2 separate regions of the Homo sapiens genome follow, and region 1 is linked to region 2. The links come from fine-mapping of genetic effects on gene expression. A gene starts in region 2. The other region holds a variant in brackets. All regions are shown on one strand. Distances are from middle to middle. Region 1 overlaps NR2E3 (nuclear receptor subfamily 2 group E member 3). Region 2 holds the start of MYO9A (myosin IXA).

What was found. PIP is the estimated chance that this variant, and not a neighbour inherited with it, causes the effect.
Region 1: its variant is fine-mapped to the expression of MYO9A in whole blood (INTERVAL, PIP 0.99).

What each region holds. Positions count from the first base shown.
Region 1 is chr15:71,817,571-71,822,876 of GRCh38, reverse strand. NR2E3 (nuclear receptor subfamily 2 group E member 3) reads right to left here. Exons shown (of 8, transcript NM_014249.4): 8 at 4,624-5,306. The coding sequence ends at 5,193. It overlaps MYO9A (myosin IXA), which reads left to right. Exons shown (of 42, transcript NM_006901.4): 42 at 1-586. Among named protein-coding and RNA genes, the nearest start is that of NR2E3, 9.7 kb to the right of the region's middle. The variant C/A (reference allele first, on the strand shown) is at 3,084.
Region 2 is chr15:72,115,567-72,120,945 of GRCh38, reverse strand. It overlaps MYO9A (myosin IXA), which reads left to right and starts at 2,796. Exons shown (of 42, transcript NM_006901.4): 1 at 2,796-3,266. It overlaps SENP8 (SUMO peptidase family member, NEDD8 specific), which reads right to left and starts at 2,543. Exons shown (of 2, transcript NM_145204.4): 1 at 2,482-2,543. RefSeq lists a silencer at 2,675-3,444 and an enhancer at 3,645-3,854.

The DNA.
Region 1 (5,306 bases), 300 kb after region 2:
AGGGTAACAGCAAAATGATGATTGTGGAGATGGATCTATTAGGTCTCATGTTGGTCCCCTGGTTGAAACTATTTTCAAAAAAGCCCCAACAATGGGCCTGTCACCTTGCTAGTCATCCATTCTTAATGCCTATTTATCAGCCCTCTGAGGTCATATAAAAGTTGCACCTTTTGAACCAAGTATTTGTATTTACTATGGGAAAGGTGTGGACTACAGATTCGTATTATATTATTTTAATGGATTTTAAGTAATTTATAAGTATGCTGAGTGTAAATTTTTTTTAAAAACTGTATTATAAAAGGACATATCCTGTGAAATATAACATTTTACTGTTTAATAGAATAATTCTATAAGAAGAATGATTTATCTCACCCACGGAACTGATTACATTCCGGATGCAATCAATAGGCACTTTGTAATTTCCTTTTTGTTTTTTTTTCTTTGCTGGGGGGTTGAGGGGTAACAAGATACCATCTGTATAAAGTGCAGTTTGTGTCACTCAAAATATGCACTGTATGGCTACACAAAAGCAGCTTGATGAACAAATCACCCCATGGCTCATTAAAGAACAAAGCTTCCAGAAGCAGCAATATGTGTGGTTTGTTTTCCAACCATCCTGGCTCCCACTCCAACTATTCCAACCCAACTCCAAGAAACAGCAGTGACTTCTTAGTTACACTGATGTGTTTTCAGGAAAGGACTCAACCCAAAGTTGACAAAGCACAGAGGTGGTAGTCACTGGAACTCAACTGAATTCAAGTGAAGGTGTGATTCAAGGTGTCGTTTTTTCTGTAGTGGATGCAGGCTGCTGGCTGTCAAGACTTCATTTAATCGGTTTAAGGCTAGAAGGGAGGAAAAGCAGTAAATCTGCATTTAGGATCCTCCCCTAAATTGGCCACTTGAAGAAGTTGCTAATAGAGGTTGCCAATAGAGGGCCCAAGGATTCTCACTGAAATTCAAAGCAACACATTGCAATAGGAACAGAAATTTTAACTCAGTTTGTCATTTTTGTTCTGCTACCAACTTTACTGCATGTCTGGGAAAGGCATTCGCTCTCTCTGAATGTTAGTTTTCTTATCTGGAAGTCAGTTCTGTTTCCCAAACTCCCAGCTTTGGAGAACTCCTACTGACTCGCAGGTTTTAGTATAAAAGGTAGTTGTCCTAGGAAGTTTGCTCTGACCCTGTGAATTGGGTTAGAGGTCTGTGTTCTCAACAGCTCTCAGTTTTCACAGCGTCAAACACTTACCTGTCTTGCTGACTCTTAGATCCCAGCACCTAATAAAAGGTGCTGGCTAGGCAGATATTGGATGAGAGGATTGACTAGGATCAGTGGTTCCAAAATGCCAAATCAGGTCTGAGGTTACATGGGGAAAAAAACATGTCCCTAATGCCAAATGTATTCAATTTTTAAAATTCTGGGGTCATCCTTCTCACTTGTTTTTACGTTACATTTACATTTTCATTTTTGCATTAAATTTATATTACATTGAAATATGAAGTGTTAATTGTTTAAAATTCCCTTAGTTGCCCAAATAAAACCTAGAAATACCATTTTTATTTATTTTTATTTTTTTGAGATGGAGTCTCACTCTGTCACCCAGGCTGGAGTGCAGTGGCACAATCTCGGCTCACCGCAACTCCCACCTCCCAGGTTCAAGTGATTCTCCTGCCTCAGCCTCCCAAGTAGCTGGGACTACAGGTGCCTGCCACCATGCCTGGCTAATTTTTGTATTTTTAGTAGAGACGGTGTTTCACCATGTTGGCCAGGCTAGTCTCAAACTCCTGACCTCAGGTGATCTGCCTGCCTCGGCCTCCCAAAGTGCTGGGATTGCAGGTGTGAGCCACCACACCCAGCCGAAATACATTCTTAAAACTTGCCCCTGAGATGATTACTGAGAAGACAACTATTGTGATTATGAAGACCTGAGAACAGAAAGGTATATAAGGAGAGGCAAGTTATAAAGTGACCACAGCTTTGGTTTGGTTTGTTTTTTAAATTGCTTTTGCCCCTAGAATGGGTGGCAGTACAGTGTCTTAGAGCCAGAGATATAAACATGAAAGTAGATAAAGTACATGTAATATCTGACTGTTGAATCTTGTAGGTATCTCAGACTCACAGTCAAGGAGTGTGTCACTTCCAGGTAGTGCCCACAGGCATTGTCCTAGGTGCTTAGGGTACATTAGTGAACAAAACAAAGATCTCTGCCCTGTGGAGCCTGCATTCTAGTGGGGAACACCAGTGATGTCCACCAGATAGAGACTAGTCATCCATGATACCTGGGTTTGACTATGAGGTTGCGCTTCTTGGCATCTTTGAGTCTTTCCCTGCCCTTCCTACCTTGAAATATCCCCTTGTGGGTAGAGGAGTGTCTCGTGAATCTAAAAACTAGCTTTATTTGAAAAGAAAGGCCCAGATAGTCCCACAGGGACTACCTCTGTGGTGCTTCATAGCCAAAGATATTTCTGGCATTGAGGGGGAAAAAAAAAAGCTTTCAAATTATCTACCCTCCTAATAAGGACCCTAAATGCAATGGAAAAGCCATTACTCATCAGAATTTCTGTAGAGCCAATCTACAACAAGAAGTTGAATAATGGCTGCCATCATCCTAGGTGGTTTACAAACAGGAGTTTGTATTCTTGTCTGTAAGACATGCTGAGAGCTGTACCAGGTTAGGAGAACAGAGGCCACTTTGTATTCCAGGTGAGATGGACTTAATACAGAAATTAGGATCTAACAAAGGTCAGAGATATTCCCACAGGTCAAGAAAGCCAACGCAAATCTCAGCTACAAGTTCCAGAGGAGTTCTCAAGAGCTTGCCTGGAAGCTAGTGCAATTCTAGCCAGGAGGCTGCTATGAAATCTATTTTCCCACGACAGGGCTGCAGTGTCTCCAAAGAAAAATGGCTTCTCTTTTTCCTAATGCCAAATTTAATCAGTTTGGCATTAGGGGGGAAAAAATCTCCTGTGAGTGTCTTTCATTAGCAAATCCTAGGGGAAAGGGTTTCTGGGAAATGTAGTTCCTTCCTGGCATCTCTGCAGTGAAGAAAAGCCCTTAGAAGTGGGGGAGGGGTGGTATTGATGCC[C/A]GATTGACAGCAGACAATCCAGCTTATGTACTTCCTCTAATTCTCCAAGACTTCTTGGAGAGCCCTCAAATCTCCTTCCCAATGTAGATGTGCTGGGCTCACACATCCCAGATGCTAGCCTGTGAACTTCAGCAGGCTACCTTTGCAGTCTTACCATGTCCTCCAAAGCCAAACTGTAAGATACATACGCAGGGCTGGTCATGTCATATTTCAACCATGTGTCTTACTAAGGTGGCTTTGCTCAGGGCTTAGCTCATATGGATAAAACTTTTGATAGGGAATTGGACTGTATAATGGCATTATAGACATTAGTTGACCGATTAACTGAGGCCACTCTGATACTTTGAAAAGTTGGAGAGAATCTGAAGTAGCCTAGGGGCTGAAGTAAGAAGGGCTTCAGCTGGGCAGCATTTGCCATACTCTTTCCTCTCTGGCACCAGCCCTAGCGGTTCTGAGTTCCTGAGTAGATAGGGCATTTCTGTCAGCTAAGGGAATTCAAACACAAGCCAAAGGACAGGGAACCCCTAGGATTTCTCAGCCTTCTCACATGACCCTTTCTGTCTTGATTTCAAACACTTATCCTTTGAAGGCAGAAAATGCAACAGAATTGTTCAGTCTTTCATTCCAAAAGTGAAGGGGAAGTTGGGAAAGAGGCGGTGCCAAAGTTAAGCAGCATTAGGTAGAGTCACACCAAGGTTTGAGTCCTCTCTAAGCATCAGTTTTTTCACTTATAAATGGAGAAAATTGGCTCTTCCCTCAGAGTTAATCTGCGGATTAAATGGCAATTTAAAAAGTGCCCGGCTCACTGCCTGCTATTAATATATACATTGCCTGATCTATGTTAACATGTTAAAATATTATTTTCACAGTCATCTGGGTCTATCTTCAAAAAGGATTAGGTTCACACCTGTAATCCCAGCACTTTGGGAGGCCAAGGTGGGTGGATCACCTGAGGTCGGGAGCTCTAGACCAGCCTGGCCAACATGGAGAAACCCCGTCTCTACTGAAAATACAAAATTAGCTGGGTATGGTGGTGCATACCTGTAATCTCAGCTACTCGGGAGGCCGAGGCAGGAGAATCACTTATACCCGGGAGGCGGAGGTTGTCGTGAGCCAAGATTGCGCCATTGCACTCCAACCTGTGCAACAAGAGCAAAACTCAGTCTCAAAAAAAGAAAAAAGAGAAAAAGAAAATGATGAAGTTTGTCTGAGCTGTATCTTTCCATAAGGACCTGAGAAGTGATGAAGAGTCCCTTTCACAAAACGTACCTGTAGCTGCCTTATGTTGAGTTGGAAGGTGTTCTTTACTTAGGAAGGAGATGAGGCAGGAGATAGGAGATAAAGGTTGAGAGATGCTGCGGATGATGGGATGCCATCTGGAGAGAAGCTGGGTGGTTGAATTCTATGGGAGATTTTCCACTGGGCTTGAATTCATTGCGCCTGGTCTCTGACTTGGAGTGGAACCCAGATGGAACTCAAAGACCTTGCGCTCATTCCTTCAGTGTCCCCAAAGGGAGAGCCTTGACCACACTCATTTTTCTGGTTTTTTTTGTTTTTTTTTTTTACTTTTTTATTGAGGTCTAACAAAATAAAGTGCACAGCTCAATGAATTATTACGTATGAATACATTTGTGAAACCACTGCCCAGATCAAAATCAACATTTCTGGTACACCAGAGGGCTCCCATGAGCCCCCTCTGTATCAATCCCCCACCACCCAGAAGTAACCACTATTCCAACTTCTATTATTGTCAATTAGTCTTGCCTGTTCCTGAACTCTGCATAAATGGAACTTCGGCCTGGCTTCTTTCATTCAACTTTTATGTCTGTGAAGTTTACCTGTGTTGCCACATGTATCCGTAATTCATTCTTTTTAAATTATTTTTCATTATATGAATATACCACAACTTGTTAATTCATCCTACCATCAATATACAGTTTGGGGCTATTATGAATAAAGCTGCTATGAATATTCTTACAATATCTTTCGGTGGGCATTTCTGCTGGGTACACACACCTACGAGGAATTGCTGGGGCAAAGAGTAGGCAAATGTTTCGTTTCAGTAGATTGTTTTCCAGAGTGCTTGGAAACATTTCACCTCCACCCCCACTAGTTTTTGAACATATCACAAAGGAGCTTCTCCATTGGAGTATTCCCTATGGTCTTGCGGAAAAAGAGGAGCTCGATGCGTTCCGCAGTGATAAACCTCAAAGACGGGAGGAG
Region 2 (5,379 bases):
TGAACTTAGACTGGGAAAACAATTGCATCTTTGTTTTCAATAATCAGTAGCTGAAATTTAGCATTTCTTCAATAAGTGTGGACCACAAACTACAATATTAGCACTCTCTTTTTTACCAATAGAAATCTGATATTTTCACATCACATTAAAGTTGCTGCAGGCATTTCAAAATATAATTTATAGTCATCACTACTTAGAAATTATATAATTAGACCTGCTGCCAGATTTTATTTAATGCATAAAGTGCATATATATCACACATTTGTTTTAATATTTTAAAAACTTAACAAAATTAGTTTCCTTTATATTACTACGTATTCTATTTTATATATTTAAGAACATTTTTCTGAGACTGAATCTATAAGGTGGACTGCCAACAAGGTCCACTGGGTAAAAGAGGTTAAGAACCTTTTTTGTACTTATTAATTACTTCTAGTAATATAATCTAAACTCTTCACCATGGAATTCAAGGCTCCTCATAATCTGTTCACACCCACTTTATCATCTTCATCTCTGTCCCACCTCTACTCTCCATACTATGCTCTAGCCATACTAGACAACAATAACTCGTTCTTATCTGGGTCTGATAGACAGGTTTTTGGATTAACCCTAGTTAATAGATAGCAGCCATACACTGTCTTGGTCTTTACCTCATACAGCTTCTCTGCCTGCCAAGTGAATTCTTTGTTTAAAGGCCTGCTTTCCCTAATACGGTAATTTTCCATCCTAATTGAGCTGTATTTTAAATATCTTTATATCTCATTACTAACTTAAATGATAAATAATAGAAAAAGATTCTAAATTGGCAAGGCACTGTATGTAGTAATCTCTATGAGAGTGGATGTTGGTCTTTGCATCTCATAAATTGGCTTAGCTCTGGATGTTGGTCTCTGCATCTCATAAATTGGCTTAGCTCTGATCATTTTGGGGACAGAAGTGGGGATGGCCTTTGAGCTTTAAGGCTGGAGACAACAGCTGACCAATCCTGGACGGAAGGGAACGGGAGAGCAAAGAGACAAGTAACTAATTTGGACCTGATAAACACTGAGGAATGAACAGTGCTGAAGAGAAAGGCAAGAGTGGCTCCTTCTCCCATTTCCCAGACCAGTTATTCCAAACATAACGCCGCTCAAGTTTCTCATTCCATCTCCAAGCCTCTCTGTAGTTAAATGACCTCCATCTTTTTTTTCTGGGGGCGGGGACGGAGTCTCGCTCTGTCACCCAGGCTGGAGTGCAGTGGCGCGATCTTGGCTCACTGCAAGCTCCGCCTTCCGGGTTCATGCCATTCTCCTGCCTTGGCCTCCCGAGTAGCTGGGACTACAGGCGCCTGCTACCACGCCCGGCTAATTTTTTGTATATTTAGTAGAGACGAGGTTTCACCATGTTGGCCTGGATGGTCTCGATCTCTTGACCTCGTGATCCACCCGCCTCGGCCTCCCAAAGTGCTGGGATTACAGGCGTGAGCCACCGCGCCCGGCTAAATGACCTCCATCTTAATGTTACAGAGCCAACTGTCTCAACTTCCTTCTCTCTAGTTTAGTGAGTCTCAATCTTTAGCATTAGAGTCACCTGTGGAGCTTTAAAACAGTAATGACACCTGGCACAACCCAGAATTTAATTGGTCTAGAGTGGGGCAACAGTATTGGTTTTATTTAACAAAAAGTTTCCCAGGTGATTCAAATGCACATACAAGGTTGCGTTCCACTAGTGATCTTGATCTTATAAATTAGCCTCCCTCACCCTCGAAGAGGCCACTTCTCGGTTTCATGGTACGCTTTTGAGTCTTCTACCTAAACAGAAAACATTCCTGAGGGCCATATTCTCGTTCCTCATTTCTCTAACTTTATAACGATGCTTCTTTAAAGGGAAGTCTACACTAGTACGGTTTCCATCAGGTTTATTTTACTTCTTTTTTCTCTTTCAGACCACCACTGTCACATGCTCTTGCGCCCGTTATTCTGCTTTTACCTCCTTTCGTATTTCTTTGACCAGGTACTGGATTACTAGTCTTTTAACACAGTCCTCTAAAAGTGACCCAAAAGTCACCCTGGAAAGGGCTTCCTCACGTTATCCTCCTACACAACCTGGGACCCCTCTTCTGTGCGCAGACAGCATCCCGTGCATTTTTCTCTATTGTCACTTTATTGTACTACCACTGCGGATTCTCTCACGGTCTCCTATACAAAAGCACTTCAAAAAGCTGACACCACTTAATTCGCCTCTGACATTCTGGAACCCAAGGCATGGAAACCACTCAGTGAAAAGTCTGAGAAATGAATGGAAACGGAGGTCGGGGCGGGGACAATGGAGGGGGCAGTGGGTGGAGAGAGCGTGCGTGTTTGAAAAGGGGCGGGGGCTATGACCGGCGGCGCTGAGAATCCAGGTCCAGAATCGGGAGGGAGCACGGATACGCCAGAATCTGAGTGGGTGGGAGAGCGATCCACTGCCGAGACAAACCGAAGTGGGGAGGAGGCTTCTTACCTGCCTCGGGCCTCACCACCCCAACCAGCCTTCAGGCACCTCTGTGTTGGCCGGAAAGCGACAGCTACGGTCGCAAACTCAGAGGTTTCGTCCCCAACCTTGCGACATCCCTTTCCAGTACAGGGAGAATCTAAAGCTGAGTTCCCTGCTCTGCCGTAAGGTGAAGAAGAAAAAATTTGGGCGGGGCCGCCTGGGGCGTAGGAAAGGGGGCGTGTCTGCGCAAGCGCACGCTGTACTCTCCAGTGGCGTCACGTGCGGGGGCGGGACAGGGCGGGGCCGACCCGTGCTGGCAGTAGGGGGCGTGGGAGGTAAGTGCGCGCGCGCCTGCTCGCCTGCAGCCGGGGAGTCGCGCGGGGCGGGGCCGCGTGCGCGGGGTCGGGGGCGCGCGACCGAAGCGGATAAGGGACGCGGCGGCGGTTGGCTGTGTCTGTTGAGAGAGTACAGGACAGCCCGGACTGCGAGAGGCGGCGGCGGAGGCAGTAGTTGCACCGGCAGAGGCGGCCGCTGGCAGCGGTTGAGGCGGCGGTCCAACGCGTGCTCTCTGGGCGGGGTGCGGCGGGGGATGTGCCTGCTCAGGCCGGGCGGAGTCTCTCTGACAGGGCGGGGGATGCGCCGCGGCCGCTCGCCCGGACCCTGAGGCTGCTGGGCCCACCCTCCCGGAACCGTCCGACCCTCGGTGGCCTCGGCCTCTTCTGCCATCTCCGGTCCTACCCTGGGGCGGAGGGTGGAAGGCAGCTTCCGTCGAAGAGGAGGGGGCTGCGGTGGCCACCGCGGCGGAGCCCGAGGTAAGACCCGCCCAAGCGCCCAGCGGCCCTGCAGCCCGTCCTGGCCCACGTCTCAGCCTCGCTATTTGGCTCCGGTCGGGCCGCCCCGCCCCGTCCCAGCGGAGACGCCCCGCGAGCGGGTCTGCGCCGAGCCTCCCAAACACCAGATCACGGCCCCGGATCCCCAGTAGACCCCACCCCCTGTATCTTCCATTGGCCGGGCACCATTCCGGCCCTCCAGCCTCCCCGGAGATTCTGTCACGGTCCCCCCAACCCAGCAGACCCCATTAGTACCCCTCAGAGTCCCTTAGGACTCTTAATGGAGCTTCTAGACTACGTTACATCCTCCCTTGGGCTGACGTGATTACAGTTCTCAGGCAAAGTCTCGACCGCCCCCTAACCCATTGCGTCCCCCATGTGCCCCTCGCCCTACTCTTCTTAGTAGAACCCCTCCCAGCTCGCTCATCACCAAGCCGACTAGCACTAACCCTAGCCATCACGGCTTTCAGATAGCCGCTGTCATGGTGTTCTTACTCCCGGTAGATGTGGTGTCAGTCCCTCTAGACACCGTCACAGACTTTGGCTTCTCTCCCACCACCGACTGTAGCCTCTCTCAACAGACCTCTCCTCAAGCAAACCTTGTTATCTTTCTCCTTAGTCGCGATCCTTTCTTTGGTTGAAAGGGCTTTGCCATGAAATCCTGAGGGAATATTTGCTTAGCCTAATGTATTCCCTCCATTGTGGCTTAAGGGGACCGACCGAGACCCATGTTTGGAGGGGTTGGGCTGAAAAAAGTGGGAGGCAGAGTGAAGTTATGGAAGCATGAGGCCAGTTGTGTGTGTGCCATTATAAGGTCACAGAGCCTGCACCTCGTCTTGTCTGTTCTGTGTAGAACGTGTGAGGTTGTCCAGCACTGATGTTTTAGGGACCTCTGTAAGGATTAAATCACGTTGCACTAGTGGATATAACTATGTCGTCTTGTAGTATTACTTCACCTCCTTGTCGATTGCTGCAGATACTAGAACTGTTTCTTATTTTTATTTTTAAAGGATACTAGGGGACTTTTTTTGGATTCACTGTTTTTTGGATTTGCTAGAAAAATAAGATTTGTAGCATTCCTTAATCCCTGAATGCTTCGATGTCGGTTTAATAATAAACTTCTGTTGCCTGGTGCTGCTGTCTTGCTTCTCCAAGAAGCAAGTACAGAAATCATGCAGTGTTCACTGAGGTCATTACCAACAACAGCCTTCTCAATAGCAGTAAAATGTTGAATAAAATGTTTGTAGAAGTTGAGCTCCTGAGTTGTCAAGAAAGAAATGTAATGTTGCATCAAATGATCAGTACGTAATTTTAATATTGGTATAAAGATGAAATATAAAGAGGTCTTTGTAGTCATACACACACACACAGTAAAAAATGTTAAAGTAACAGGAGAAAATCACATTAAAATTATAGATAATAACTAGACGTAAAAGCCAAAAGTTTCGGAAGAGTAATGTAGTAAAAATTTCTGTTCCGCCTTCACTCTCCAGCCACCCATTTTTCCTCTTTAGAGGCAACCACTATTTCCAGCTTCATGTGTATCCTTTCTGTGATATTTCCAATATATAAACCTACACATTTATATTTTTAAGACACTGTACACAAATGGTTGCATACTTTACATTCTATACATAGCCTGTTTTTTTTACTTAATACTACATCCTAGAGGTCATTTCTTAACAATACATATGGAAGTGCCTCATTTACTGGCTGGATAGTATTCCATTTTTGTGGACTGGAGGTTATTTTTGGTGTTTTGCTTTTACCAACAATGTTACATGCTTTTCTTTTAAATGTGTCTGATGTTATATGTATGTTTAAATAATTTTGTGAGTTGAAAAAAATTCCTGATGATTCTTTTATGTTGAACCTACAGAAAGGATGTAACTAAATTTCTCATTGAACCTCTGAGCTTCCACAGTGTGACTAGCTGTGATGATGATTATAATATTTATTAAATTATTGAAGGATTTTAAAGCAGGGGACTGGAATGATCAGATTTGCATTTTAAAAAAGTCATTCTGGCTGCAGTGAATTGAAGAGTAGAATAAGACTAAAGGCCAGGAATATTAGGGTTATCCAGGCAAATGGT